2 linked regions of the Homo sapiens genome follow. The protein of the gene in region 2 purifies or fractionates together with the protein of the main gene of each other region. This does not show direct contact. Each region holds a gene or a part of one and is shown on either strand. Other genes may lie near its edges.

Region 1 (15,819 bases), about 21 Mb from region 2:
AGGGAGAAACGAGACTCAATGTGAAGCCATCCAAGTAGTAAGGGAAAAGGTTTATGCTATCAAATTCAGTGAAAAGATGATCAAAAGCATTATGTACAGGCTTCTACTCTGTCTACAAAGGATGAAGCACTAGGAAGACCACACTCCCACTGTATACAAAGCATAACATGTGTAACGGTAATAGCACAAAAAAGAGGAAGAAGGAACAGGGCCATGTGGGAGTAACATTTCCATATCTTACTCGAGTTAAGTTAGTGAATACATCATTAAAGGAATTAAAATATTGGGGAAAAAATGTGAAAGAAAAGCCACTGAAGAGGAACAAAAAAGTAAAATGGGGCCGGGCGCGGTGGCTCACGCCTGTAATCCCAGCACTTTGAGAGGCTGAGGCGGGTGGATCACGAAGTCAGGAGATCGAGACCATCCTGGCTAACATGGTGAAACCCCGTCCCTGCTAAAAATACAAAAAATTAGCTGGGTGTGGTGGCGGGCGCCTGTAGTCCCAGCTACTCAGGAGGCTGAAGCAGGAGAATGGCGTGAACCTGGGAGGTAGAGCTTGCAGTGAGCAGAGACCACATGCCACTGCACTCCAGCCTGGGCAACAGAGCGAGACTCCACCTCAAAAAAAAAAAAAAAAAAGTAAAATGGAAGAAATAAACCTAATTATCAATATTAAATATGAATGGATTAAATAATCCAATCCAAAGACAGATTGTCAGATTGAATTCAAATAAAAAAAAAACCAGTAAGATCTAACTATACACTCTCTATAGGTGACACATTTTTCTTTCTTTCTTTTTTTTTTTTTTTGAGATGGAGTTTCGCTCTTATTGCCCAGGCTGGAGGGCAATGGTGCGATCTCGGCTCACGGCAACCTCCGCCTCCTGGGTTCAAGCGATTATCCTGCCTCAGCCTCCGGAGTAACTGGGATTACAGGCATGTACCACCACACCTGGCTAATTTTGTATTTTTAGTAGAGATGGGGTTTCCTCATATTGGTCAAGCTGGTCTCGAACTCCCAATCAGGTGATCCGCCTGGCGGATTACAGGAGTGAGCCATTGTGCCCAGCCTAGGAAACACATTTTTACAGTTGATGAGAGAAAAAGATTGAAAGTAAGAGTGGGCCAGGCTTGGTGGCTCATGCCTGTAATCCCAGCACTTTGCAAGGCTGAGATGGGCAGATCACTTGAAGCCAGGAGTTTGACAGCAGCCTGGCCAACATGGCAGAAACCCCATTTCTACTAAAAATACTAAAAATTAGCTGAGTGTGGTGGTGCACACCTGTAGTCTCAGCCACTCAGGAGGCTGAGGCACAAAAATCGCTTGAACCTGGGAGGAAGACGTTGCAGTGAGCCAAGATCATGCCACTGCATTCCAGCCTGGGCGACAGAGCGAGACTCCGTCTCAAAAAAAAAAAAAAAAAGTGAACAAAGATATATCACTCAAATAGCAACCCTAAGAAAGCTGGTCTTTTACTTATTAGCTTATTAGCTATTAGTAATATAAAATGAAATATACTTTAAAACAACAAAAAAAGTGACTAGAGGTAAAGAGAGATTTAAATTTGACTGAAGGGTCAATTCATCAGGAAGAAAACAATCAAACATATATGCAAGTAACAACAGAACCTCAAATATATAAAATAAAAATACACAGAAGTGAAAGGAACAGACCAACAGTAATAAAGATCTCGCCGGGTGCAGTGGCTCACACCTCTAATCCCAGCACTTTGGGAAGCCCAGGTGGACGGATCACTTGAGGTCAGGACTTCAAAACCAGCCTGGCCAACATGAGGTCAGGAAATCAAGACCATCCTGGCTGACACAGTGAAACCCCATCTCTACGAAAAATACAAATATTAGCTGGGCGTGACAGTGGGCACCTGTAATCCCAGCTACTTGGGAGGCTGAGGCAGGAGAATTGCTTGAACCCGGGAGGCAGAGGTTGCAGTGAGCTGAGATCATGCCACTGCACTCCAGCCTGGGTGACAGAGGGAGACTCCGTATCAAAAAAAAAAAACAGAACCTCAGTATTTCACTTTCAATACTAGATAGAACCAAGCAGATCAACAATGAAACGCACTTAAACATTACAAAGCAACAAGACATAATAGACATGTACAGAACATTCCACCTAACAACAAGAAAATACATATTTTCCTTAAACACTCATAGAAGAAAAGAAAATCTGGAAAATTCATGAATATATGGAAATTGAAACAATCCTAAATAACCAATGGGTCAAAGGAGAAATCACAAGGGAGATTAGAAAATAATTCAAGATGAATGAAAATGAAGGCATGATATACCAAAACACGGAATGCAGTTACAGCCATGCTTAGAATATATAGCTGTAAATGCACATACAGTCATGTATCATTTAACCATGGGAATACATTCCAGAGTGCAGTGGCACGATCACAGCTCACTACAGCCTCAACTTCCCAGGCTCAAGTGATCCTCCCACCTCAGCCTCCCCAGCATCTGGGACTACAGGCACACGCCACCACGCGCCCAGCTAATTTATTTTTTGAGACAGGGTCTTGCCACGTTGCACAGGTTGGTCTCAAGTTTCTAGGCTCAAGCGATCCTCCTGCCTCAGCCTCCCAAAGTGCTGGAATTACAGGCTTCAGCCACCACACCCGGCTGTACAGCATGTTACTCTACTGAGTAGAGTAGGCAACTGTATTTGTACATCTAAACGTAGAAAAAATACAGTAAAAATATGGTATTATAATGTTATGGGCCCACTGTCATATATGTGGTCTGCTGTTAACCAAAAAGTCCTTATACTGCATATGAATACATTAAAAAGCAGAAATAAACCTACAGAATGGGAGAAAATATTGGTAAATCACTTATCTGATAAGGGACTTAAGAATATGTAAAGTACTTCTACAACTCAGTATTTAAAAAGCAGACAAAGATTCTGTACAGGCATTTCTCCAAAGATAGCTGGGCACAGTGGCTCATGCCTATAATCCTAGCACTTTTGAGAGGCCGAGGTGGGCAGATCACCTGAGGTCAGGAGTTTGAGACCAGCCCGGCCAACATGGTGAAACCCTATCTCTACTAAAAATACAAAAAAATTAGCTGGGCTTGGTGGCGTGCACCTGTAGTCCCAGCTACTTGGGAGGCTGAGGCAGGAAAGCCGCTTGAACCGGGGAGGCGGAGGTTGCAGTGAGCTGAGATCACGCCACTGCACCCCAGCCTGGGCAACAGAGAGAAACTCAAAAAAAATAAAAAAATAAAAAAATAATAAAAAATAAAAATAAAAAAAAGAAAGAAAAAGGAAAATAAGTATCTTTCCACATCCAAACATATGACAAAAAATAAGAAAAAACAAAAAAAGAACAGAAATTCAAAACAAAATTAATTTCTTTAATGACATACAAATGGCCAATAAGCACATGAAAAGGTGCTCAACATCATTAGCCATGGGGAAATGCAAATCAGAACTCCACTGACTCACCCAGGGGAGTTCACCCAGGTGCCAAGATTTAGCCAAGGCTCCAGGTCTTTTATTTGTAATTTTTTTTATTGTTGTATTGTTTTATTAGTCTCTGCTTCTCCACTTCTAGCACAGGGCCTTGGTCCACAGTAGGCACTCAATACATACTGAAAGAACAAATGAGTGGAAAAGGAGCATGGCAGACAGAATTCTTCTCTACAGGCTGTCTGGAGATGAAAAATATGAACCTCAAGTCAATAAAGTCTGTTGTTTACCCACCAGGAGCAGCTCTCACCCAGGTGTCAACATTCAGACAAAACTCCAGGGCTGGGAGGAACTTCTGCCCTAGCACTAAACAGATCAACATCTGGGAGGCAACAGCTGTGCCTCTTGGCTCCCCTGGCAAGACCCCTTAAGAGAACCATCCATGGAGAAATGCTGTTTTCCTTTTTGCTGGGCTCAAAAGCTTAAGGGCTGGGTGAAAATCCAGGGCCCTGTGTAACCCACAGCTCAGGACTACTCAGAGACTGCACGGCAGTTCCTGGTGCAGACGAGGCCCCAGAGATGGGTTCCACCCATCTCACAGAGACTTCCCCTGGAAGGCCTGCTACCTGACAGCAAGTAGAGATGAGTGGGAGGGTCAGGGGACTGCTTTCTCCCTAACTTACCGTCCAGACACCGGTTGTTGTACTTCTTATATGCGGTGATGGCATCGTCCTTTTTCACAAACACCACCTCCGCTACCCCAGGATGGACCAGTCGAGCTCGCTTGAGGGCCCCACACACACAGAAAAGCTCCTGCACACAACAAGAGGGGTTGGGATTGGGGAAGGATTTCTCAGCACCTGCCGCTCACACACTCTGAAGGCCCTGGGGTGTGGTGGTTCCGCTGCAGCTAAATGCGCCCTGCGCCTGAGACTGCGGGGAGGCTCCACGCGAGGTGGTGCTCTGGAGACATCCACAGGCTTCAACACAGCACCAGATGAGGTCAGCAGTGGGAAAGGGGCTGGGTTTACAAGCCTTGGATCACCTGGGATCTCCCAGCAAGCCACCACCAAAGTCTTCAGTGCCCACCTCAACAGGGATAAAACAGTTATGAAAATTTTCGCAAAGAGCCCTGTCATTAGAATACATGTATACAAAGAAAGACAGCTGCTAATATGTCACCTGAGAATCTGTTACAAATACAAATTCTGGAGTTCTACCCAGAGTCCTGGTTTGGCTGGACTGAAGGGTTTCCCTGGACATGAGACTTTGAGTGATGAAACCAGGAGAGTCCCCAGCAAAACAGGGACAGTTGGTCACTCTAAGTCAGACCTGAGTTTGATCCCCCAGGCTCTGCTTTCTATCTGCTATGAGACGTCTAGCAAATTACTTAACTTCTCTGAGCCTGTTTCCTCCTCTGAAAATAAAAAGGACTAGCTTACTTCCCAGCTTTACTGGAAAGCTCAACTGAGATAATTTTTAAGGCAGTGCTTTGCACACATCATTGAGTCCGATCTCCACCTCATTTTACAGACAAGACGACTAAGGCCAGAGAGGGAGCAAAATGTGAAGATGGACAGAGGCTGACTAGCACTCACGCCATTTCTTCACCTGCAACTGCCTTCACAAGGTTGCTGTGAGGGCCAAAAGAAGGTTTATGAAAAGGTCCTTGACATGGTTTGTTTTTAATGGTAAATATCAAAACAAGATGCCCCTCTGCACCTGCAGGAGACTGGTTCCAGAACCGCTCGCAGATACTAAAATCTGTAGATGCTCAAGTCCCTGCTATAAAATGCTGTAGTATTTACACATAACCTATGCACATCATCCACTATACTTTAAATCATCTCTAGATTACTTATAATACCAAATACAATGTAAATGCTATATAAATAGTTATACTGTATTTCTAAAATTTGTATTATTTCTCATCATACTGTTATTTTTAAAAATTTGAGTATTTTCATTCAGTGGTTGGCTAAATCCACAGATGCAGAACCGACAGATATGGAGGGCCAACTATAAATAGTAGGTGTAATTCCAATTTTATTACCATTGTCCTTTTAACATTGCCTATTTGGGTAGAAGAGAAGCGAGGGTGATTATTACTAGCAATTTCCCCTGAGCACTGATCATGACTGGTGTTTAGTTTTCCACCATTATGTATCTTCCAAGAGTCTGCCTAAAGTGACTGGCACATAGCAAGTACTCAGTAAATGGCAGTTGTTATTACGCTCCTTAACAGCTTTAATTCTTTTCTTTTTTTGAGAGAGTCTCACTCTGTCACCCAGGCTGGAGTGCAATGGCGTGACCTCGGCTCACTGCAACTTTCACCTCCCAGGTTCTAAGTGATTCTCCTGCCTTAGCCTCCTGAGTAGCTGGGACTACAGGCACGTGCCACCACGCCTGGCGAATTTTTCTGTTTTTAGTAGAGACAGGGTTTTGCCATGTTGGCCAGGCTGGTCTCGAACTCCTGACCTCAGGTGATCCACCAACCTTGGCCTCCCAAAGTGCTGGGATTACAGGCGTGAGCCACTGCACCCGGCAATCAGCTTTAATTCTTAATGACTTGTCAAGTATTACACAAAATAGGCTACAATTTCCATCCTCACGTGCACCATTCACAGTACTGTCCCTGCTAAAGGAGAAGGAGATACGAGTGACCCATCTCACGGCATGCGTGTGTTTCACAATTAAGATTTAACCTCAGCTGGGCACAGTGGCTCACACCTGTAATACCAGCACTTTGGGAGGCCAAGACAGGCAGATCATGAGGTCAGGAGTTCAAGACCAACACGGCCAACATGGTGAAACCTCGTCTCTACTGAAAAATACAAAAATTAGCCGGGTGTGGTGGCACACGCCTATAATCCCAGCTACCAGGGAGGCTGAGGCATAAGAATCACTTGAACCCAGGAGGCGGAAGTTGCAGTGAGCCAAGATCGCACTACTGGCACTCCAGCCTGGGCGACAGAGCAAGACTCCATCTTTAAAAAAAACAAATCGAGGTGGGTGGATCATTTGAGGTCACGAGTTCGAGACCAGCCTGGCCAACATGGTGAAACCCTGCCTCTACTGAAAATACAAAAATTAGCCAGGCGTAGTGGCAGGCGCCTCTAATCCCAGCTACTCGGGAGGCTGAGGCAGGAGAATTGCTAGAGCCTGGGAGGCAGAGGTTGCAGTGAACCGAGATCACACCATTACACTCTAGCTTGGGTGACAGAGTGAGACTCCATCTCAAAAACAAAACAAAACAAAACAAAAAGATTTAACAAATGTAGTGACCAGTGCAGTCTGTTAGTCTGGGACTTAACTGCAGGGAGAGGCTGGATTCTCCAAACGTATTCATTTTGTGATCTGACAGTTCAAAGGATGCCTGGATTTCTAAACTAATGGCTCTTTTGGGTGCCTGAATGAAAATGATGTTGAAAAGAAGTCCTAGCTGCATCCAGAACCCCGCTCACAGACATTTGACAGGTTTTGCCCATGACTGCCATGGGTGGGACGGGATGGACCAGGAAGGTGGATACCACCAATCCATCTCACTTCTTTCACTTTGGAATCATCTTGTAATACCTCCAAAGGACACAGGAAAACACAACTATTGGATACTGCCCAGTGGGACTAAAGGATCCCATTTAGGACCCATTATAGCATAGATATCCCCTGACTCTGAGATTCAGGCCAGGCACCTGGCCTTGGCTAGAAGCTGTGCAGAAGAGTGAAGCAGCTGGGCTGACTGCTATTGTTTGAAAGGTCCGATTCCAGGGGTGGCCCTTGGCTGGCATCTGAGAACTCGGATCTCAGGAGGGCTCCTGCCACCCCACAGTTCACTGTGCCTGGACTGTGCAAACAACATGGTTTCTGCTCAACAGCTGCTTTCCCTCTGGGAGTCTGGAATTTTAGTACATGCTACACAGAGAATGCCGAAGTGACCAGCCCCCAGTAAAACCTTTGGGTACTGAGTCTTTAATGAGCTTCCCTGGTGTCACATGTATTGTCACAACTTGCTGCGAGTTGCACCCAGCATCCTGTGCGACTCTGCTGGGAGGGGCCTCTGGAGGCTTGTGCCTCGTTTCCCCCCGACTTCACCCCATGAGCCATTTGCTCTGCATCCTTTTGCTGTCATTAGTCTCAGCCCTGAGCGTGACTATATGCTGAGTCTGGTGAGTCCTAGCAGTCATCAAACCTGAGGGTGGGTCTTAAGAGACCTTTGCCACAGAGGCAGTTTGAGATTTAAATGTTTGGTAGGTCACAGTACTTACAACAATGTCCTCCTCAGTGACTCGAGGGTGCAGATTATTCACAGTCATCTTGGTGCCTTCCAATGGGCTGAGAACAGGCTGCCACACAGACAAGAGCATTACCAGAAGCCAGATGGCTGATAAGCATTCCCACAACAGAAATTCCTCCAGGCACGTGACTAGGAAGGCCCAGAGGAAAGCTCCATGGAGAGTTACCACAAATGGGCCCCCTGAACTTCAGTGTCCACTACACCCCCCATCACTCTATGCTAAAAGCATGGACCCTCTCCCATCTCCCAAATACGCAAGCCTCTCAGGCCCTGAGCCTCTACCTGGAAGGCTACTCATGCTTCCAGACCCACTCAGCTAAAAGAGCCCTTTTTCCCAGACTTCCCAACTGGAATGAGATAATCTGTCCTCAGCCCTCCTAATAGCTTTCTTCTGAGAGAGTCTAACATATCACCAGATACCGCAATCTCTCAGCAGGTCTGCCGTCCCCACTAGCCTGCAAGGTCTTTGAGGGTAAGAGTCCCTAGGTCTTGGTTTGCTCATCTGTAGAATGGGGGTGGCAATGCCCACCTCACAAAGGCGTTGTGGGGAACACAATGAGGTACATATAAGCATACAGCCCTCCTGACCCCAACTGCTGCAGTCACCACCATCACCTCACCTCAGCAGCTGGCAGCTCTTTGGGGGGTTCTTCCTTGTTCACCAGTGTCCGGGACATGTTGGTCAAGGCTTTTGTTCGAATAGAGGAAGGGAGAGCAGGAGCTGTGTATGCATCATTCTGAACCACTTTGGTGAGAGGGAGGGCCTTGGACATGGAAAGCTTGGAACTGCTTAGCCCAGCCTAAACGAAGAGACAGAAAAGAATCTGAGAAGCCAGACCTGCAATGTTCTGAAGAAGCCCCAAGAGGTTGACAACTTGCTGAGAGCATGAACCCTCGATGCCTCCCAGCTCTCTAATTCTATTAGAGGTCTGGAGCCAAAAAGGCTGCCGGCTGCCAGTGACATCCCATAGGGAAGGGGCAGGGGGAGAGAAAAACACACAGCCTGAACGCGCACTCACAGAAGCCACTCCCCACAGTGCTAGAAGCTCTTGGCAGGAAGCTTCCATACAGCCCTGACCTGGAAAATTACCCAGGAGCCACAGGCTCACCCACACCACTTAGACTTTCTAAAAATTCTACAATATGAGGCTGGTCAGAAGGCCAAAAGCTTGGCCAGGCATAGTGGATCACATCTGCCATCCCAGCACTTTGGGAGGCTGAGGTGAGAGGACTGCTTGAGGCCAGGAGTTCAAGACCAACCTGGGCAACACAGTGAGACCTCATCTCTATAAAAAATGTAAAAGAGCTGCTCTGCCTGTGGAGTAGCCATTCTTTTATTCCTTTGTTTTCTTAATAAAGCTGCTTTTGCTTACAAAAAAAAAAATTAAAAGGCCAAAAGCTTGAGGCCAAGTTCATTCCCAGATATGCTTCTATCACAATGTGCTGATCACCACTCTTAAGAAGGCCCAGAATTCAGTGTTTTGGTTCCTCTTCTGGCCATCCAGAGGAACCACACACAGCCTTGGCCTCATCAGCTCCGACTGTCAGGGACACTCGGGCATTTGGCAGTGCAGATCACCAAAAACAGCCCCTCCATCTGGATGTGGTCCCTTGGAAACAAAACTCCCCTGTATTAATGTGTCTGAGGAAAAAGGTGCATAAAGCAGAAGTGACGGGGGCCCTGCTGATTTAGGGCAGTGTTTACAGGCACTGACCCAGGGCAGGGAGAAAGGAGGAACGCAGCGGCCAGAGAGGCACATCAGAGCATGGGCACGGGCAATTCACCACGCTCCTCCAAGTCTGGGTGAAGCAGCGTCATCCCCATGCTGAATTCCACATTCCTCATGTGGAATTCTGCGTCTCCAGAGCTGGGACAGCACAGTGACTCCACACAGGGCCCTGAGAGCGAGACTGCTCGGGCTCCATTCCTAGATCCACTGCTTCTCATCAGCTGGGTGATGTTGAACAGGCTTATTTCACCTCTCCATGCCTGTCCCTCATCCATCAACGAGGGTAATCAACAGTACCCATCTCACAGGGTACAAGACGCATGAGTATAAATATGGCATTTATTCAATTAGGGTATCAAATAGGGATAGAGACTCACTGAGCAAGCTGATAGTTCCCTTGATAGCAGACTTGAGCAGTCTAATTACTGGAAAGGCCTGGTCCCTTTGTAAAGAAACAAACTGGCATCATTCAGCTTCACGACCTCTTTTTTTTTTTTTTTTTTGAGACGGAGTCTCGCCCTGTCACCCAGGCTGGAGTGCAGTGGCGCAATCTTGGCTCACTGCAACCTCCACCTCGGGGTTCAAACAATTCTCCTGCCTCAGCCTCCCGAGCAGCTGGGATTACAGGCACGCGCCATCATGCCCAGCTAATTTTTTATTTTTAGTAGAGACGGGATTTCACCATGTTGCCAAGCTGGTCTCCAACTCCTGACCTCAGGTAATCTGCCCACCTCAGCCTCCCAAAGTGCTGGGATTACAGGCGTGAGCCACCACGCCGAGCCAGCTTCATGTTTCTTTTTTTTTTGAGACAGAGTCTCACTCTGTCGCCCAGGCTGGAGTGCAGTGGCACAATCTCGGCTCACTGTAAGCTCTGCCTCCCAGGTTCACACCATTCTCCTGCCTCAGCCTCCCGAGTAGCTGGGACTGCAGGTGCCCGCCACCACACCCCGGATATTTTTTTTTTTTTTTTTTTTGAGACAGAGTCTCGCTCTGTCGCCCAGGCTGGAGTGCAGTGGCGCCTCTTGGCTCACTGCAAGCTCCACCTCCTGGGTTCGTGCCATTCTCCTGCCTCAGCCTCTAGAGTAGCTGGGACTACAGGCGCACACCACCACGCCTGGCTAATTTTTTGGTATTTTTAGTAGAGACGGGGTTTCACCATGTTTGCCAGGATGGTCTCGATCTCCTGACTTCGTGATCCACCCACCTCGGCCTCCGAAAGTGCTGGGATTACAGGCGTGAGCCACCACGCCCGAACTTTTTTGTATTTTTTAGTAGAGACGTGGTTTCACCGTGCTAGCCAGGATGGTTTCCATCTCCTGACCTTGTGATCTGCCCGCCTCTGCCTCCCAAAGTGTTGAGATTACAGGCGTGAGCCACCGCACCTGGCCCATATTTCTCTTAATTACTAACCAGGAGGCTGGTCCACATACTCAGGACAGTAACCAAAACTGAGTCTTTGAGCGTCTGAAGGAAAAACAAAAGAGGTGGCTGCCACAAGGACCCACCTAGGCAGCCCACTGGCCTCCCTGTCTGACACTTGGCTGTACCACTGAGCTGAGCAGCATGGACCTCCCTGATGATCCCAGATGTTGTTTTCTTTCCTTCTCTGCATGATGTCTGACCAACACTCTAGCCTAGCAAGCTTTCCCTGCATGCAGGCTGCACCTGGTAGAGCCCACAGATCAGGTGAGATGTATTCCTGCTAATGTTAACCAACGGAATCCAGACTCCAAGAGCAGCGCCAGAGCTGCTGACCACAAAGGGTTACGAAGCATGCAGAATGGCCAGCCACCAAGGAAAGAACACAGACTCCCCACTGTGGGATCACTCACACTTTCCCTATAGTGTCTCAAACACAGCACCTAGGAGCTGCAGCCCTGTACTTCACTTGCTGTGGGACCTTGAACAAATCAGAAGGCACCCCAGTGTCTCAGCGTTTATAAAACTAAGGGAATGGACTAGTTCCAGCTCTGAAAATCTTACGGCCCAAACAAAGAAATATTTCTGCATTGAAAGGCTCTATTCACGCCGGGCGCAGTGGCTTACGCCTGTAATCCCAGCACCTTGGGAGGCCGAGGCGTGCGGATCACCTGAGGTCAGGAGTTTGAGACCAGCCTGGCCAACATGGTGAAACCTCATCTCTACTAAAAATACAAAAATTAGCTGGGCGTGGCGGCAGGCGCCTGTAATCCCAGCTACTAGGGAGGCTGAGGCAGGATAATAGCTTGAACCCAGGAGACGGAGGTTGCAGTGAGCCAAGATTGCGCCATTGCACTCCAGCAGCCTGGGGGAGAAGAGCGAGATGTCGTCTCAAAACAAAAAAAACAACAGGTTCTATTCAACACGACCTCTCCCACCTGCCTGATCAGACACGCAGTGTAAGAAAACATGAAATGCCATACCATGTGGTGGAGAAAGCCGCCTGAGGCTGCAAACTTCATCTGTTTAGTAGGAACGGAAGCTATACCATCATCATCTTCATCCAGGTCATATAAATTCTGAGAATATAACATAAAGAAATATAAGCAAATGTGGCATCTGGGCCCTCAACAGACATCTAGAACAGGCATGGCAAGGAAATGGCTGCTGGAGAAACAAAGGGACCAAGGAGAAGTGGGCACAGGGGTGACGGTGCCTGGAAAGACTGGGGCCCAAGTCTTCACAGGCTAACTCCCTGTCAGCAAGGACCCAGTGAAAGTCCTACAACTTCCAGATACATCAGAAGTCCCTTTTTCCCAGTGGGCAGTATGTACCAAGAGTCCCTAAAATGTTTCTTTATATCCTTTGGCTTGGAAAGTCCATCCTTGTTAATATGACCTACAGAAATAAATCCAAACCCTAGAAAGAGCTTTATTTACAAAGATGTTCACAGCAGAAGGATTTCTAACAGTGAAAATGACAGGAAAATGGTTTAAATAAAACTGGAATGCCAACTATATAGATTTTGCAGTTACTAAAACATGTACAGTAAATATGAAATGTCACAGAGAAATGCTTGAGTTACAAAGTGAAAAAAGAATGATACAAAATTGGATAAGAATATAACCATGGCTGGGCTCAGTGGCTCAAGCCTGTCATCCCAGCACTTTGGGAGGCCGAGGAGGGCGGATCACGAGGTCAGGAGATCGAGATCATCCTGGCTAACATGGTGAAACCCCGTCTCTACGAAAAATACAAACAATGAGCCGGGCATGGTGGCATGCGCCTGTAGTCCCAGCTACTCGGGAGGCTGAGGCAGGAGAATGGTGTGAACCCGGGAGGCGGAGCTTGCAGTGAGCCGAGATCGTGCCACTGCACTCCAGTCTGAGTGACAGAGCGAGACTCGGTCTCAAAAAAAAAAAAAGAATATATAACCACAACCACAACTATGAGTTAAGTAAAAAACAGACTGGGGCTGGGCACAGTGGCTCACGCCTGTAATCCCAGCACTTTGGGAGGCCAAGGTGGGCGAATTACCTGAGGTCAGGAGTTCGAGATCAGCCTGACCAACATGGAGAAACACCGTCTCTACTAAAAATACAAAATTAGCCAGGCGCGGTGACTCATGCTTGTAATCCCAGCTACTTGGGAGGCAGAGGCAGGAGGATCGATTGAACCCAGGAGTTCGAGACCAGCCTGGGCAACATGACAAGACTCCATCTCTACAAAAATTAGCCAGATGTGGTGGTATGCACCTGTGATCCCAGCTACTCAGGAGGCTGAGGTGGGAGGATCATTTGAGCCCAGAAACTCAAGGCTGCAGTGAGCCATGACTGCACCACTGCACTCCAGCCTGGGGGACAGAGTGAAACCCTGTATCAAAAAAAAAGAAGCGTACATGTAAGGAACTATGGCAAAATTTCAACAGTGACTGGCTTTGGAGAATAGGAACTTGAGGGACTTTTTGGCAAGTTTTCTATATTAAGCACATAGAACTTTTATTTAAAAAAATTAGGCCGGGCGCGGTGGCTCACACCTGTAATCCCAGCTCTCAGGGAGGCTAAGAGGCGGGAGGATAGCTTGAGCCCAGGAGTTCGAGACCTGCCTGGGCAATATAGCGAGACCCCGTTCTCCAGAAAAAGGAAAAAAAAACAAAACAAAAGACAAAAAAAAAAAAAGCGTAAAAAAATTAAAAAAAACAAACAAAACTTTTTTTAGCCTCTCTGCCCCCTATGCCTCCCTTCCTCTATTAAGAAGTTTCTTCTTGGCTGGGTGTGGTGGCTCACGCCTGTAATCCCAGCACTTTGGGAGGCTGAGGCGGGGGGATCACAAGGTCAAGAAATTGAGACCATCCTAGCCAACATGGTGAAACCCCATCTCTACTAAAAATACAAAAATTAGCTGGGTGTGGTGGTACGCGCCTGTAGTCCCAGATACTCAGGAGGCTGAGGCAGGAGAATCACTTGAACCCGGGAGGCAGAGGTTGCAGTGAGCCGAGATTACGCCACTGCACTCCAGCCTAGCGACAGAGCGAGACTCCGTCTCAAAAAATAAAAAAATAAAAAAAATTTCTTCTTTAAACTCAAATTGCAAAAAGTTCGCTGTAACCCTGCCTCCAATACTACCAACTGGGAACTACCAACTGAGCAAGCCTCAGTCCATCCACCCAAGTAGGCCTCATCAAAACACGTGCACACCTACATGTTCGCTATGTACACACAGATTCTCTCTCTCTCTCTCACTCACTCACTCTACCTGTTTGGCCTGGTGGTTATTGACAACATTGATTCTCATTCCGGCAGGATGGGGATGAAGTGGTGCCATGGCTTTCTGCTGTGGAACCTGGAAACACTCAGTGGTCAGAATCCACCCCACAGGGTCCACATGCATTCTCTAGAAGAAGGGGGTTACTGAACTTGATACATGGTGGGCATGCAGCTTTGGTCTTTGGTAAAAGGCACTACAGAGGGCCTTATCCTCCACAGTAGGAAGTAACAGAAGAATCATCAATCCAGAGACCATGCCGGTAACGCACATGTAGGGCTTAATGGACTTGGCTCAGTAAATGTTTGCTGTGGCCGCTGCTGTTCCTATTACCAAAGCTGCTATGAAGGTTAAATGACATTGTTTCCTTTCCCTCTGTGGTGGCAGCTGTGAAGGGTGGCCAGGGCCTTGGACTAGGGGCCAAATCCCACTGGGCCTGGGGGTGGAGTGAGGACTGTAAGGTCACAGATATTAAGGGCCTGCCACATAGCATGTGCTCAATAAATCTTTTGTCCTTTCCTCTCTCTTTCTTCCACCAGTATCTCACCTGGGAAAGTCACCAAATTTCTATGGGCCTCCTTTTTCTTTTTTTTTAGAACTGAGATAATACCTTTCCTTCCTTGTATAGTTCCTTGGCTATAACGTACTTAAAGCCTCTGTAAGGAGCAAAGTCTGTATTATGCCAACACTTGAGAGGATAGTATTTTTGCCCAGTCACTCCTGGCACCTTGCCTCTAAATCTACCTTTGTTACTAGCTTTCTGGGAATTCATGACAAAAGCCACAACTCACCTGGATGGTTTTGGTGAGCTTCAGAGCAGGGGTCACTGTCCCAATGGGTGGGTTTATGAAGGCAGCAGGGGAACTCCTCTTCAAGCTGATCTTCTCCCGGGCATCAGCAACCTGGCGGGGCTTCTGGGGCACCGTGGTCTGCTGCTTGCGAGAGTTCAACATCTCTCTGGCATCCTGCACTTTCCCTTTGATTCGAAATCGGGCATCTTTCTGCAAAAGCTTCTCCCGGGCATCCTTGACTCCCAGTTTGAGCCGGGCATCTGAGAGGCCAATCTTCTGCCGGGCATCAAATCTCTGCTGGAAGGTGGCTGTGCGTGTTGACTGGCTGAGAAGGCCTTGCTGGATCCCAACTCGAGATCGGACACCTCCAACTCCCGGTCTGGCATTAAGCCTGTAAATATAAATTGCAATCAATATTAAGTGGATCTGGGTATCTACAGCAGTCTATGAAAGCGGAACTGTGGTAACACTGGGGACAGAGGAGGCCCTGGAGAATCAGAAAGCGGCTCCTTGCCTGTGATTGAATAAACGATTATGCCTACATGATGACTCCTTTCCTGGTTTCATGATGGCTTTTAACTTTGCATTTTAAGCAAAATTAAGAGAGAGGGGCTGGCAAGTTTTATTCCTAGTTAAGAGTGTTTTGCTTCCTAGACCACGTGTCTTGAGACACCAACATGGACAATAACTTCCCAACAATGCCAGTCAAATAAAATAAACATCCACCAAATCTAATCCCACTCATCTGAGGAGTAACTTTAGTTTCCAAGGCCCATCCCCATCCATGTTCTCACTCAGCCCTCTCAGCACCCTGAGAAGTACTTACTATGCCCACTTTACAGTGGGAGAAGCAGGTTTGGAGAGGCTCAATGATTAACAAAGAGT
Region 2 (15,819 bases):
CACCCTGCAGCATTAGGGGTGTTGCTTGTACTATTTGGCAAAGTCAGCTTGGAGCACAGAGAAAGTTATCTGAGTAATGGATACGTGTTTGGGTCTTTCAGTTAACCCCTGACTCTTGGTCACTGCAAACATGAAACCAACATGATTATCAAAGTAGTGGTGGCCAGCCCTTGACTGTTGACTGTCATACACTGTGCTGTGTGTTTGATATACATTTTCTGAGATAATTATCACAGATCACTAGAAAGTAAGGCCCAAGAGAGCAGACTTTTTTTCCGTTTCATTCACCATCGTATCCACAATGCCTGGAAATTAGTAGGTACCCAAAAAATACTGGATGAGTGTGAGAATAAAGGAAGATATGAGTGGACAGATGTTTTCCAACATGGCTATTGCGGCGAGCTCTCAGAGATGTTCCTTCTCTCATTTCCATCTATCTCATGGGCCTGTCTTGGGCTCCTGTGGCTTTGTACTAGCTGGTAACATTTTTATCTCCCCATTCTCTCCTCATCCTCCTTGACTTTTTTTTTAAGGCAAGGTCTCACTCTGTCATCCAGGCTGGAGTGCAGTGGTGCAATCATAGCTCACTGTAGCCTCAACCTCCTGGGAACAGGCCACCCTCTCGCTTCAGCCTCCTGAGTAGCATATGCCACCATGCCCAGCTAATCTTTTTTTTTTTTTTTTTTTTTTAGACAGGGTCTCACTATGTTAGGCTGGTCTCAAACTCCTGACCTCAAGTGATCCCCTCACCTTGGCCTCTGAAAGTGCTGGGATTCCAGGCATGAGCCATTATGCCTGGCCCAATATTCTTGTTTGTTTATTCTTCCACATGAAAGGCACATTCATTTAGTCATATCCCAAAATTACCACTACAAGAATTTCTTCTTAAAATAAGAAAATATTATAAAGAATTGAAATCAACACAATTCATCATTCCAACAGTAATCTGACTTGCCTTTTATGTCACTGGGCAAAATAAAATTTATTATGGATATCGGCTTCATGTTTGTCACTATGATATCCTTTGACATTTTAGGCGAGGCAGGGAGGTAGCTTCTCCTGTGTAAAGAGTTCACTTTTGCCACCATTTATTTACGTGGGTTTTTTGCTGGTGTTCACAGAATATGCTGGCACCTTCTGGTTGTTCTTCAGTTGTTTCTTTTGTGAAGAAAGGAGTATAAAGATATGGTGATGTCTGGCATGGTGGCTCACGCCTGTAATCCCAGCACTTTGGGAAGCCAAGGTGGGCGGATCACGAGGTCAGGAGTTTAAGACCAACCTGGCCAACATGGTGAAACCCCATGTCTACTAAAAATTTAAAAAATTAACTGGGCGTGGTGGCGCACACCTGTAGTCCCAGCTACTCAGGAGGCTGAGGTAGGAGAATTGCTTGAACCCGGGAGGGGAGGTTGCAGTGAGCCGAGGTCGCGCCATTGCATTCCAGCCTGGGTGACAGAGCGAGACTCCGTCTCAAAGAAAAAAAAAAGACATGTTGAGTTCAGGTCATAGGACAGGCTGCCAAGAGCTGTTTCTCCATGTACCCTGCAAATGACTTGGGCTTCTGTGACGTTTTAAGCTCCACCCACTTCTGGGGACAGCAGAGTGACAGAAGTCCCCCTCCCAGACAGGGGAGAAGGATGGCCTCAGCACACAGCCAGTCAATTTCCTGTTCTTCAGCGCAGGTTTCATTGCCCTTTTATTCAAACTTCAAAAAGTAATCTTGGCCAGGCGCGGTGGCTCACGCCTGTAATCCCAGCACTTTGGGAGGCCAAGGCAGGTGGATCACAAGGTCAAGAAATCAAGACCATCCTGGCCAACATGGTGAAACCCATCTCTACTAAAAATAAAAAAATATTTAAAAATTTAAAAAATTAGCTGGGCTTGGTGGTGTGTGCCTGTAGTCCCAGCTACTCGGGAGGCTGAGGCAGGAGGATCGCTTGAACCCAGGGGGTGGAGGTTGCAGTGAGCCAAGATCGTGTCACTGCACTCCAGCCTGGCGACAGAGCAAGACTCCTCTCAAAAAAAAAAAAGTAATCTTTAAGGCTGTGCACGGTAGCTCATGCCCATAAATCCCAGAACTTTGGGCAACAGAGTGAGACCCCGTCAAAAAAAAAAAAAGTGGCTTCTGGAACTAGGTTGCTCTGCCACTTCCATCATTGTGTCCTGCTGGTTCTTTTTTTTTTTTTTTTTTTTTTTTGAGATGGAGTTTTGCTTTTGTTGCCCAGGCTGGAATGCAATGGCATGATCTTGGCTCACTGCAACCTCCGCCTCCTGGGTTCAAGCGATTCTCCTGCCTCAGCCTCCCGAGTAGCTGGAACTACAGATGTGCGCCACCATGCCCACCTAATTTTTTGTAGTTTTAGTAGAGACGGGGTTTCTCCATGTTGGTCAGGCTGGTCTCTAACTCCCGACCTCAGGTGATCCGCCCGCCTCAGCCTCCCAAAGTGCTGGGATCACAGGCGTGAGCCACCGCGCCTGGCCTATGTGTCCTGCTTCTTTATGTGTAAAATAAGGATAATAATAATATCTAATTCCTAGTGTTGTAATGAGGATTGTGTCAGTAACAGAACAGTGCCTAGAACAGAGTAAGTAAGCACTGCATGATGTTAACTATTAATAGTATTATCAAAATCATGGACCAGCCTATGCCGAACCAGAGAGAAGAGAGGTCCAGGAGCCCTCAGTTATCCCATCCACCATAACCAGGCACCTGCCCAGTAAGTGAGGAGGGTAAGGAAGAGGAGAAAAGTCAAGACCATGGTGGAAACACCCCAGGGCTCTGCTTCCTGAAGTCCCATGGCGGTGTCTGGGCACCTGAGTTTCTCTCATGGCCTCTGCACACTCCTTAGAGGAGGCCTCTGCAGGCAAGTCTGCTGCTACTCTTTAGGGGAGTCAGTTTCTCCCCAGCCATGGGGAAAGAAGAACGGCCCCTCTCGCTGAGTCGATCCTAGGCCACCATCTCCCTGGTCAGAGTGGAGCTGGGGTTGGGGGGAGTCCCAATAGGGAGACACCTCCAAGTTGAAGGGTTCCTCTGAATCTGGGTCATTTGTCAACCTAAGGGTCAGTCAGAAAGCCTGACCCAAAGCTCTGGCAGAGGGTCAGCTGCAGGGCTCTCCGGGAAGAAAGCACAAGGCAACTGCAGTTTCTCTGCTCTGACCAAGAACACTTCCCGACGCCCTGGCCTTCAGAGCTGACCACTCAGCGCCTCCTGCTGGCCCAGGCCTCAGGTCCTTCCTAGGGCTCCATACAATGAACTCTGGAACTGGATTGATGGAATGAGCTGAGGGCCTCTGGGTTTCTCTTTCAGCCAACTGGTAGCACCCAACAGAGCCAATCTTAGCCCTGGCTGGTATGTGGAGAACACACTGCAGGGCGGCAAGGTGGAGACCTGGAGGGAGAGGAGGAGCTCGGATCAGGGTGGTGGCAGGGAGGCAGGGAGACTTGAGGGGATCTCCGATATACAGTCTTCGATTTAGGACAATTTCCACCTACAGGATTTTTCAACTACAAAACCAGTATGCATTCTGCACGCTTCTTGACTCATGATGGGGCTACATCTGGGTAAGCCCATAGTAAGTTGAAAATACCATAAGTCAAAAACGTACTTTCGAGTCACAATATTTTCAACTTAAGATGGGTTTATGTGGATGTAGTTCCATCTGAAGTTGAGGAGCATCTGTATTGTAAAGACAGTAATGGCAGGATTTGTGGGTGGTCCAGGATGCTCCCAGGCTCTGTCCCTGAGCAACCAGGAAGATGGAGTTGCCATTTTGGAGACGAAGAACCTACCAAGGTGTGGGTTTGGAATCAGGAGTTCTGCTTTGAAAGTGAAGTCTCACCGTGACTCATAATTTGTGACATTTCCAAACCTTAATTTGCCTATAGAACTTTTCTTTTTCCAGAGCCTCTATCCAGACTACTTATTATTTATCAAAATAAATTAGATAAATAAATAACTTAATTTTAGAATTCATCTTCCAGATATACTTTACACAGATCATTCCAATAAAGGCAGGTTGGGGCCCGGGACAGTGGCTCACCCCTGTAATCCCAGCACTTTGGGAGGCCGAGGCAGGAGGATCACTTGAGGCCAGGAGTTTGAGACCAATCTGGGCAACATAGTGAGACCCTCCCCCTAGACCCCATCTCTACCAAAAAAAAAAAAATTAATTGGCTGGGCTTGGTGGCTGGCACCTGTGGTCCCAGCTACTGGGGAGGCTGAGGTGAGAGCATCGCCTGACGCCAGGAGATCGAGGCTGCAGTGAGCTGTGATCTCGCTACTGCGCTCCAGCCTGGGTGACAGAGTGAAACCCTGTCTTTAAAAAAAAAAAAAAAAAAACAGCAGGTTGGGAAAATCTACAAGGAACAAGGGCAATGTGTGTATGTTATTTAAAATAAGATCATAAAACGTATTTTAAACCTTCCATAATCCTAATGCTCTAACAAATAAATTAGTTGGCCGAGCGTGAAGAGTCACACCTGTAATCCCAGCATTTTGGGAGGCCGAGGGAGGCGGACCACCTAAGGTCAGGAGTTCAAGACTAGCCTGGTTAACACGGTGAAACCCCCGTCTCTACTAAAAATATAGAAATCTTTGGGAGGCCAAGGCGGGCGGATCACGAGGTCAGGAGATCGAGACCATCCTGGCTAACACGGTGAAGCCCCGTCTCTACTAAAAAAATACAAAAAATTAGCCCGCGTGGTGGCAAGCGCCTATAGTCCCAGCTACTTGGGAGGCTGAGGCGAGATCATCGCTTGAACCCGGGAGGCGGAGGTTGCAGTGAGCCGAGATTGCGCCACTGCACTTCAGCCTGGGCAACAGAGTGAGACTCCGCCTCAAAAAAAAAAAAAAAAATATATATATATATGTATACACACACATATATATACATACACATATAAATTAGCTGGGCGTGGTGGCGCACGCCTGTAATCCCAGCTATTTAGGAGGCTGAGGCAGGCGAATTGCTTGAACCTGGGAGGCGGAGGTTTCAGTGAGCCGAGATCACACCACTGCACTCCAGCCTGGGCGACAAGAGTAAAACTCTGTCTCAAAATAAATAAATAAATAAATAAATAAATAACTTAATTTTAGAATTCATCTTCCAAATATATTTTACACAGATCATTCATTCATTCCACAGATTTTTTTACAGCATCGAAAAGAAGCCTGCTATACACACATCGGTACATTTTTATTATTTTAATTATTAACAGCATAAATGTTTTCATGCCAGTTTTCATAATCATTGTAATGATAATTGTCATGATTGTCTCTCCGTGGCGGGGAAGAATCTGGGTGCAGGGCTTGGGGATCCCTGCGGTCCGCGGCGTGCAAGTGCCACTCCCTGGGGTGCTCCCGGAATCCGCGAGCCACGGAACCTAAGAACGCCGACCCGCCGGAGCCGGAGGGCAGACGCTGGCACACCGGACGCGGGGACGCCAGAAGCGGCTGGACCCGGAAATAGGGGTTGTCGGTAGCCGCCCCGGGAACAAGGACCGGAGCTGGATCCGCGGTGCGGCTGTGGGTGAGCGGCGGGCTGCGGGACCCTCGCCCGGCGGCTCAGAAAGGCGGGAAGCGCACGCATTTTTCTGGCTTGTTTCCTGAACGTTGGCCGGCGGAGGACCCGCGAGCTCGGGAGAGCGCCCGGGCCGGGCTCTGCATTCTTGTTGCCTCTTCCCTGGCGGGGGTGATACTCTCCCGCGGGGCTTGCTGTGGGGGTTCAGGGAGGTGGAGATGGGCCCGCCATGTGCCTGCAGGGAGCAGGCGCTGTGGTTAATACTTTTCTTCTTCGAACCCTCCCACAGCTCTTTAGGGTGAGATCTGCTGTACCAGTCTCACAGGTAGGGAAACTGAGGCTCAGGGAAGCTGTGCAGCCACCGGGGCCCAGATCGGTGCGGTACACACCCAGGCAGCTTCCACTCGCCGCCCCCTAGGCCCTGGCTGGGTTTTGAGGGCACCCAGGTTCTCTGACCTGTTATCTGTAAATGAAGTAGGGTACTTTTGTGAACAAATTAGCTGGAATCCAGGGGCAATAATTTCTCGCAGAAGTGAAAGGTAAGATGTTCCTAGTCTTGCCTTTTTATCTTCTCACCTTTTGAAACAGGACCTGAGAGGCCAGCCTAACTTGGGCTTGATGGCCAGCCAGTCCTGGGATTCTTTTGCCAAGGTCACCTGACACTAGTGTGACTTGTTCTGAACCTCCATTTACTCACAGTTTTAAAAAATTACAACACCTGCCTTATGGGGTTGCTGGCGAGATTGAATAGTGTTGATAGCTATGGTGTGCCTACTACAAAGGAGGAGCTTAAGAAATGGTTGTTTCCCTCTTTTCCTGATTCTAGAAGCATTTGGTAAAGTTACTGAGGTGGTAAATCCTAGGAATTTTAATGCTATTCAGACCACTGCTAGGCCTACTCCCAGGCCACATCTGCTTGTTTCTTTTTTTGTTTGTTTTGTTGCAGGCAGAGTCTCACTCTGTCACCCAGGCTGGAGTGCAGTGGCGCGATCTCAGCTCACTGCAACCTCCGCCCCCGGGTTCAAGTGATTCTCCTGCCTCAGCCTCCTGAGTAGCTGGGATTACAGGCATGCGCCACCACGCCCAGCTAATTTTTGTATTTTTAGTAGAGACCAGGCTTCACCATGTTGGCCAGGCTGGTCTTGAACTGCTGACCTCGGGTGATCCACCTGCCTCAGCCTCGCAAAGTATTTGCTCACTGTCTATTTACCGTGAGAATGCACAAAGCAAAACCCGTGTTCTCCTGCTGCTTACTTACTTTCTAGGAGCTGTAAGACAAGAGCTGAATAAGTAGATGGAAGCTGTACCAAGTGTAGTGATGAGTGCTACAAGGAAGCAAAGCTGGGCTGCTGTTCCATCAGAGTGCTCACAGAGGCAGGACAGGATCAGGCTTGGGGCACGGGTTCTAGAACAACCAAGTCCAGCCACTGGAGCTCTGGTCTCTCTGACCCCACAGTCCCAGTCTAGGCCAATAAAATGGCAGCACCTATTAGCATCCCTGCCTAGGATGCTGGCAGGACTGCCTGGTCCCTGGTGTGTCCTCATTATGTCATACATAATTGCTGACTACTCTGTGGCATAGACATGAGAAAATCTGAGGAAACATTTTAGGACAAAATTTCCTACTTTGGAAGAGATGGGAAACTCAGACCCTCACAGAACAATGCCCCTCTGCTGCGAGTTTTCCCTTTTGGCCTCTGGCTTCCCAGGGTGAGAGAAGGGGAGTCCCTAAATCTCTTTTAAACCTCACTTCTGGGCCTCTGATTTTGGTAGAATCAAAACTTCCCCAGAACGGAGAGCAGAGGCCAGTCATAATCACCTTGGTTGTTCATTCATTCCCTCAGCAGGCATTTAGTGCATGCTGGGTGCCAGAAATATGGCAATGAACCTGACAATTGTGGGAGAGACAGACTGCTGACGCCAGATGCAGTCTTCAGGAGGGGAGGGGCAGGGGTCAGAGCAAGTAGACTAAGGGGGAAAAGTGGCCTAGGCCGAAGCCTGCTGGCGCACAGGGAGGAAAGGTGGGTGCGCAGCAGAGCCTTGGGAGATGCAGCTGGAGCTGTCATGGGCCAGAGAGCTCATCTGCAGACAGTGTCGTCATTCCACAAGGCCTCGGCTCTTTCACTGTGGGATGGTTGTACATTTAAGGGGAACATCCACTTACTTATTTTGAGGAAAAAAGCAAATTGTCATTTTATTTGGGACAGCTTTCTGGTCAAGATTACTGATTTCACTGTAGTCCTGTGATCTCTTAAGTGGGGAACAAGGTTGACAGCCCAAGGCCGACCTTGGACCTCTTCCCCTGCACAGCATGATGAGCAGCAGAAGCCCCTTTAGTGAGGGAGTTCCTTTGGCATCCTTTCTGAACAATGCCCTTTACAACCCTCCTTTATTTTTCTGGTTTTATTGTAAAGTCCCTTGTCTTAGTTCTTGTCCCTCAGTCACCTGTGTCCAGGCGCTAAATGTAAAAGGTGCAAAAGGGAATGTGGTGAGGAGGCACCCCCAGCCCTGACCTCCAGGCCCTAACACCCACTCCAGGTGATTGCTTGGACTGTTTGTTTTGCGTTCCATCCAGACATATCGCCTCTTCATAATCAAGTGCACACGTGTGCACACATATGTGTGATCACAGATGGCAGTGCTCTCTACACACCGTTACATGCCCAGCTTTCTTAGCATGATTTATTTCAGTGATCTGATCCACGTTAGTATGTACCAAGCAGATGCTTTCCTTTGTAATGCTGCCAGGTGCTCTACTGTAGAGAATGCCATGCTTTTTTTTTTTTTTTTTTTTTTTGGAGATGGAGTCTCACTCTGTCGCCCAGGCTGGAGTGCAGTGGCGCAATCTCGGCTCACTGCAAGCTCCGCTTCCCGGGTTCACACCATTCTCCTGCCTCAGCCTCCCGAGTAGCTGGGACTACAGGCGCCTGCCACCATGCCCAGCTAATTTTTAGTATTTTTAGTAGAGACGGGGTTTCACCACGTTAGTCAGGATGGTCTTGATCTCCTGACCTCGTGATCTGCCCACCTTGGCCTCCCAAAGTGCTGGGATTACAGGCGTGAGCCACCGCGCCCGGCCAGAGAATGCCATGCTTTTATTTAACCACCTCCCTGTTGACAGACACCAGCTTGTTTCTAACCTTTTATCATGATTGATAATGCTGCAGAGAACTCCCCAGTGATGTGGTTCATCACAGGCACCACCGTGCCCAGCCTGAGGCCACTCCAGCGCTGCCCTGTCCTACCTCCTGGGGACTCAGAGTCCACATGGACAGTCTTGTCAGGGCCCACCACTGACTCCTGTGAGTCTCCCCAGGTGACTTCACTCTCTACCTGTCTCACAGCCCTTGCCCTCCCTGGGTCAGCATGCCACCACCCAGGCCCCTCTGTAATTCCTGTTTGAGCCTCCCACCCTCTGGGAGTTGCTTCTTTGACTCCCACTTCCTGCTCTTGTGCCTCACTTCCTGGACCCCACAGAGCACACCCTCTGTGGACCCTCCCCAACCCTCACCTCCCTCTTCACCCAACTCAGAGTCAGGTTCTGTCCTTGTAATCTCTCCCCTCGAACCCTGACCCACTCCCTCTCCCTCCTACTCACCTGGACTCTCCCATCTAACTAAATCCAGTGCTTCCTCTGCTGTGGGCCTGCCCGCAGCATCACCACCTGTCCTCCCTCAGTGGACAGCCGTACCATGCCTCCTCCTCCACCAAGAGAAGTGCAGCCTTGTGGCAGCTCTGCATCGCCTGGATGCTGACCGGCTGCCTCTCTTGCCCCTCACCCTCCCAAGGCCATCACTGCAGCAGTTCCTTCCCCTCCGGCACGCAGCTTCTCTTTTCCTTCTCGCCAGAGCAGTCCCATCAGCGGAGAACATGCTGGCACAGCCACCATCCTGAAACAAGAGGGGACAGTGCACCAGCCTTCTCCCATCTCCCAGGTTTTGTTGAGCTCACCCCATGCAGCTTTCATCTGTCACTCACCACATGGCCCCATCAGGATTACCCAGGGCTCTGTTTGCCAGACCCTACAGTCAGGTCTCAGCTGCCATCTCGCCTGGCCTGTCAGTGTCCCCCACATGGTGATAACTGCCCTGAAGTGCTCTTTCCTGTGGCTTTCAGGACCTTACCCCTCCTGACTCACCCTGCTAGCTCCTCATCTCCCGACCCCCAGCCTGGGCTCCTTCCACATTGCTGCCACCTCCTCCAGGCCACCCAGGCTGTCCAATGGGCAGGTCCCGTTTAACACACCTGAAGTCCCACATCAGACTGCCAGTCCCTTCCTGTCATGCCTAAGCCAAAGCCATGGGTTGTTCCTTTTGCTTTTTTGTAAAGATGAGGTCTCATTGTGTTAATCAGGCTCTTCTCAAACTCCTGGCCTCAAGTGGTCCTCTTGCCTTCGCCTCCCAAAGCACTAGGATTATAGGTGTGAGCCCATGGCAGGTGTGAGCCCATGCCCAGCTCTGCCTCAGGTCATTCTTGACTCACCTTCCCCTCCCCCTCCCATGTCCCGCCATCCCAGGTCTGCCTGGATTCTGACTTCCCTCGCATCCTCCACCACTGCTACCCAGGGCCCATTCATCCTCTTCTATGTGGCAGCCAGAGAGGTCCCTTTAACACTTGAAGTCAGATTATCCCACACCTATGCAAACCCTCTGCTGCCTCCCAGCACCCCTAGAGCAGACCCACATTCTACACCCCTGCTCCCTCCCTCAGCCCCATGAGCCCCCCTGCCCAGCCATATCCTCCCCAAGGACCTCACCTTCCCTGCTCCTTCTGCCTGGACTCTTCTCCCAGGTGTCACCCAGCCCTGCCCTGTCCCTCCCCTGCTCCCATACTACAGCATGAGTTCTGGGAGGGCAGGACCTGGTGTTGCTTTGTGCTGTATTCCCTGCATCCTGGACTAGGCCAAGCATGCAGTAGGTACTCAATAAATAACTGGACTATTAAGTTCATTCCAAGGAGTGGAATTGCTGGGATGTGCACTCGGACTTTGAGAGGGATCCCTGAATTGCTGCACATAGAGGTTGTTCCCATTTAACTTCCCCATGCCCTCATCTGCTGTGTGTGCAACGACTTTGAGTCTCTCCCTATGTGATAAGCACAAGCTCATTGTAGTTCTGAGTTTCTTCTGCGAGTGTTGTTGGACATGATGTGATACCACAAAGGTACTTACGTGGTGGTTTTCCCTTTTTTTTTTTTTTTTTTTTTTGTTTGAGATGGAGTCTCACTCTGTTGTACAAGCTGGAGTGCAATAGCATGATCTCGGCTCACTGCAACCTCCACTTCCTGAGTTCGAGCGATTCTCATGCCTCAGCCTCCCAAGCAGCTGGGATTATAGGCACCCACCACCACACCCAGCTAATTTTTGTATTTTTATTAGAGATGGGGTTTTGCCATGTTGGCCAGGCTGGTCTTGAACTCCTGACCTCAAGTGGTCCACCCACCTCAGCCTCCCAAAGTGCTGGGATACAGGCGTGAGCCACTGTGCCCATCTAGGTGGTAGTTTTTCTTTATGCTGAGATTATTTTATTTTGCTTTTACTTTTTTTGAGACAGGGTCTTGCTGTCACCTAGGCTGGAGTGAAGTGGCTGTTCTATCCACAGGTGCAGTCATGGCACACAACAGCCTTGAATTCCTGGCCTCAAGCAAGCGATCCTCTTGCCTCAGCCTCCTGAGTGGCTGACACTATAGGCATGTGCTACCACACCTGGCTTGTGAGATTTATTTTAAAAGCACATGTTTTTCCTAATATTTTCTGGTTTCATTGTTTCTACTCAAACCTTTGCTAGATCTGGAATCGGTTTTAGTGGGATTTAGGAAGCAGGAGTCTAACTTTATTTTTTTTCACAGCAGATTTCCCAGTTGTCTCAATACGAGTCTTTTTTTTCTTTTTTAATACGGTGCTATGTTTATAAACATCAGTGCTACATTTATAATGACTGAAAAAACAAAAAGGGTTCATGTGGTTTTCTTTTACTTGGCTAGCAGGTATTGAATGTCATGTGTCAGGCACAGAAAGCTGTTGCAAAGACCAACAGTGATTCAGACACAAAGCCCATCGTGTCCTATTTTGGGGGTGAAGTAGTCGCTGATGATGGCATGATGTGAGTGGGTTGGAATGGAGACCTAGCCCAAGAGCTGTGGGCACAGGAGGGCTGACTTACCCTGCCAGTGGTGTTGGGAGACTTGAGCTGGGCCTGTGGGCCATCCAGCTGCATCCTCCAGGCCTGGCGGAGCTTTCTCTCAGGCAGGGAAGCGCAGGCACAGAGGCTTCAAGTGCGTGTTTGCTTCGATGATGATATTTGATTTAATTTGGCCAGAGCATGACCTGCAAAGCAAAAGGTGGAGTGGAATAGGTGGGAGATAGATGTGACAGAGTCCTGATGTCTGCTTGGGGCTGGACCGACTAGCCAGAGGGTCTCAGGCCCATCATGGATCAGAAGGACCTGGGGGGCCCAGCCTGGGCATCTGCATTTTGTAAAGTGTCCTGGGGCGTCCAAGTGCTTTGCTGAGCGGGAGGTGCTGCTCTCGGCCACGATAGTTCCTCTTTCCAGGTGAGTCCACCTGTAGGTGGAAGAGCCAGTCCAGAGAGGAGGGCCAGGCATCCACCTGGCCTGACCCATCACTCCAGATCCCCAGGCCCCAGCATCTTCCTAGCATGGATTTAGGAATAAAATTGACCTGAGATCACTGGGGCCACTTCACCTTCCCCCAAATGGAGCCACATTCCCAGGATCATCTCAGCCACTTCAGCTGACCTGGTAGTTTTTTCTTGTTTTTAATCTCAGATGTCTTCAAGTTTCCCTAATTCCCTAATTTTTCTTCTTCTTGCCTCAGGTTGGTCTTGTTTTTTCTTTGTTAAAGTGATTTTCCTTGTAGTGGTGTAGGTTCTATTGACAGCATTGCTATCCTGAGTGTCTTTTCTTCTCTTTAGGAGTCAGCATTGGTAATAGTGCTGTGCTGCGGAAGAGTGGAGTCTAAACTTTTTCATTGCCAGTGCCCCGAAACTGGAGTGTGAAGGACCGAGACAAAATGAAGACTGTGCTCATGGTTGCTGAAAAGCCGTCCTTGGCACAGTCAATTGCCAAAATCCTCTCTAGAGGTAGGAGAGACCAGCCCTGCTTTGGTCTGTAAGCACGGTCGTTTATGTGTTACAGGACATTTTTTCCTAATGTGATTCCACCCTGGCTGGGGTAGATTTGGTTCGGGTCGGCAGGTGGTAATGAAGCATCTCAGTATGTCACAGTGGGGTGCATTTGCTTCCACTCCTGGCAATGTGCCAAAGCTGGGGTTCCCATAAGGCACAAGGCACAATTTACAATGAAATTGAAGGACAGTCATTATCCATATGCTGGGCCTGGTGGGGCTATTAGGTACAGGTAGTAGAAACCAGCCCTGGAAGGAAGGAGACGCAGCCAGGACTACACCCCAGTCAAGGTCTGATGAGGCTATGCCCCAGGCATTGTCACCCCTGGATACTCCCACTGTCCTGTGGACCTCACGTCACTCCAGAGTAGCCAATGGACTGAGCTATGGCCACAGGCACTACTGAGACACCAGGGAGCTCGAGAGGGAATGTCTGCCACTCACCCCCAACTCTGGCCACTGGGGTGGTTGGTAGGGTGCTGTTTCCCCCTATCTTTGAATTCCCTCCAAATAGGAAGAGTTTTAGATGCTGGGTACCCAGAAATGACAGGCACCTACCTGGCCTCCCCTTGGTCCAGCAGTTGAGAGGGGAAGAGACCCTCGTTCAGCTGAGAAGGCATGGTCCGCAGGGGACGGTGCCCCAAAAGTGGTGCCCGGTGCCCAGAAGCTGAGAAAGTACAGCTGAGTATGGTCAGTGGAGAGGGTGAGAATTCGATAATTAGAAGGTCCCTGGTAACCGAGAGTAGATCTGGAGTCTGTTTTAGTAAACGATGAATAACGTTTCAATGAAGTGAGGCAAAAATGGAATTGAAGAGTGAAAACATAAATACAGAGAAAGAGCCCACCCCTGCCTGCTCCTGGCTCCCGGCAGCCTGGGGCTCTGCATCGAGAGTGCTCTGTGCTAGGTTGTTGGCAGATGCTGTTTTCCCTGAGCGCCGTCCCACCTCTCAGTGCCCAACTACCCGCACCAGTCTGCGGAATGTCGTCACTCACCACTCTGGGGAAGGAGGACTCTGGCCCTCTGGGAGGTGGCATCCGGGCTGGGGTCTCCACAGGGTCTTCAGCTCAGCTGAAGCAGCCAGTCACTTTGTGCTTCCTCATCCCCAGGGAGCCTGTCCTCACACAAAGGGCTGAACGGGGCCTGCTCAGTCCACGAGTACACTGGGACCTTTGCTGGCCAGCCAGTGCGCTTCAAGATGACGTCTGTCTGTGGTCACGTGATGACCCTGGATTTCCTGGGTAAGCCCCTCTACCCTCCATCCTACTGAAGGGAGTTCTGCATGGCACTGGCCAGGGTCCAGTTGAAGCCAGGAGATGCCTCTAGGCAGGGAAGTTTGTCCCAACTCCATGAGTCATAAGGCCAGCAGATCATGAAGTAGCAATGAGAGGGTCCCTGGTGCGGTGCCCAGAACCCAGGCTCTGGAACTCAGCCCTGGGTCCCCATCATAGCGGCACCCCTTAGTCGCTGCATTCCCTGTGTGCCTTCCTATGTAGACAAAGTGGCAGCACCTATCTTAGGAAGGGCTTGACCTGTGCAGGCATTTAAGAGAAGGCTGCTGCTGTTGCCAAGTTGACCGTCATCTGTCGGTCATTTGGTGGCTGTCGTTGTCATTCCTATATTGTTACTGTTATCAATTACCTTGGAAGCGCCAGTATTAGTGACCTGCTGGGTGTAGGTTTGGGGCCATGTGGTTGGCAAGAGTCTGATCCAGGCTTTTCCCCCTGCTCTGCCGGCTCACTGGCTGGGGATGTGGGCAATGACGGCCTCTGAGTTTACACTTCTCATAGTGAAATGGGTCTCACAGCAATGCCATCTGCTTCCCAAGGCTAAGGATTCAGTGTGACAGTGAGGGCAAAGCACTCAGCACAGGGCCCGACACACAGCAAAGCCTCAGCCCTTGTTCTTGCTGCTCATTGATGACAGTGATGACAATGATGGTGACTGAGTTGTGTGGCTGAGCATTTGGACCCCAAGTTTTATCTCCAACTGGCAGGTGGGGAGCCGGGATTTGAATTTGGCTCTGTCTGACCCCATTCTCCCAGGATGCAAGAAATGGGGCCTGGGGAGGATCGCTTGAGCCCAGGAGTTCAAGACTAGTCTGGACAACATAGTGAGACCCCTGTCTCTACAAAAAAAAAAAAAAACAAAATTCTTTTTAAATCAGCTGGCATGGTGGTGCGCACCTGTAGTCTTGGGAGGCTGAGGTGGGAAGATGGACTGAGGCTGGGAGGTCGAGACTGCAGTTAGCCGTGATCGTATCACTGTACTTCATCCTGGGTGATAGAGCGAGACCCCTGTCTCAGAAAAAAAAAGAAATGGGGCCTAAAAGAAAGCCAGACAGCTGAGCATGCAAGAACCGGGTCTCTGTAGATGAGTAGGTGAATGTGCTGGGCATGAGGCTCAAAAAGATGGTCCTTTAACAGGAACGACTGCACACATGTGTGCCCCCACAGAGTGCTGGGTGGAAGGACAAAGTTCCAGAAACTCAGGTTGGAAGTGTCAATGAAGGCACCATTGTGGGGTCCAGTGCTCAGGCAAAGAGACCCAGCCCAGGAATGGTGCTCCCAGCCACAGGGAAAGTCCCGGAAGTGAGGCCAGAGTGGCAGCCCCCCGAGAGCTTGCTTGGCTCCTGTGGTTGGCCGGGGTGTGGTGGGTCCGCTCAGCAGCCGAGCAGAAAGGAGGCTGGATGGGAGGGGGTTACCAAAGGCCTGAACCCACATCCTGGCTCTGCCTCTGATCATCAGGATGACCCTGGGCAAATTGTTCTCCAAGCTTTCCCCTCCTCATTTGTGGGATGAGGCCAACATCCTCCTGGGGTTATGATGGTCTCGGAGGCTGAGCTCCTGTGACTCAATGTCACTGTGACTGGTTTGTAGGAAAATACAACAAATGGGACAAAGTGGACCCCGCAGAACTGTTCAGCCAAGCTCCCACGGAGAAGAAAGAAGCTAACCCCAAGCTGAACATGGTGAAGTTCCTGCAGGTGCGTGGGGCTGGCCTGGGCATGAGCACACCGGGGCTCCCCACCCTCCACAGCTGCCATGTCTTTGCCCACCCTTGCTTGAGTCCTAATCCCCCTTGGACAGGGGGGCCTTTGCTAGCTTTTTCTGTGAGTGCCCCCTGCTGGCCCACGAGGCACCTGCAGGCACCCCCAAC

What was found.
Region 1: the proteins of TOP3B (region 2) and POLDIP3 purify together in Homo sapiens (affinity purification with mass spectrometry; 2 studies listed by BioGRID and IntAct, with this or other methods). This does not show direct contact.

The regions. Positions count from the first base shown.
Region 1 is NC_000022.11:42,587,836-42,603,654, forward strand, and holds part of POLDIP3 (polymerase delta-interacting protein 3), read right to left. Parts: intron 15,326-15,819; coding exon 14,935-15,325; intron 14,273-14,934; coding exon of another isoform or gene 14,222-14,272; coding exon 14,135-14,221; intron 11,959-14,134; coding exon 11,863-11,958; intron 8,531-11,862; coding exon 8,351-8,530; intron 7,780-8,350; coding exon 7,702-7,779; intron 4,250-7,701; coding exon 4,120-4,249; intron 1-4,119. UniProt on the Homo sapiens protein: Is involved in regulation of translation. Is preferentially associated with CBC-bound spliced mRNA-protein complexes during the pioneer round of mRNA translation. Contributes to enhanced translational efficiency of spliced over nonspliced mRNAs.
Region 2 is NC_000022.11:21,972,439-21,988,257, reverse strand, and holds the start of TOP3B (DNA topoisomerase 3-beta-1), read left to right. Parts: upstream 1-5,470; 5' UTR 5,471-5,528; exon of another isoform or gene 5,529-5,844; intron 5,845-12,070; exon of another isoform or gene 12,071-12,277; intron 12,278-12,450; 5' UTR 12,451-12,548; coding exon 12,549-12,618; intron 12,619-13,769; coding exon 13,770-13,901; intron 13,902-15,539; coding exon 15,540-15,646; intron 15,647-15,819. UniProt on the Homo sapiens protein: Releases the supercoiling and torsional tension of DNA introduced during the DNA replication and transcription by transiently cleaving and rejoining one strand of the DNA duplex.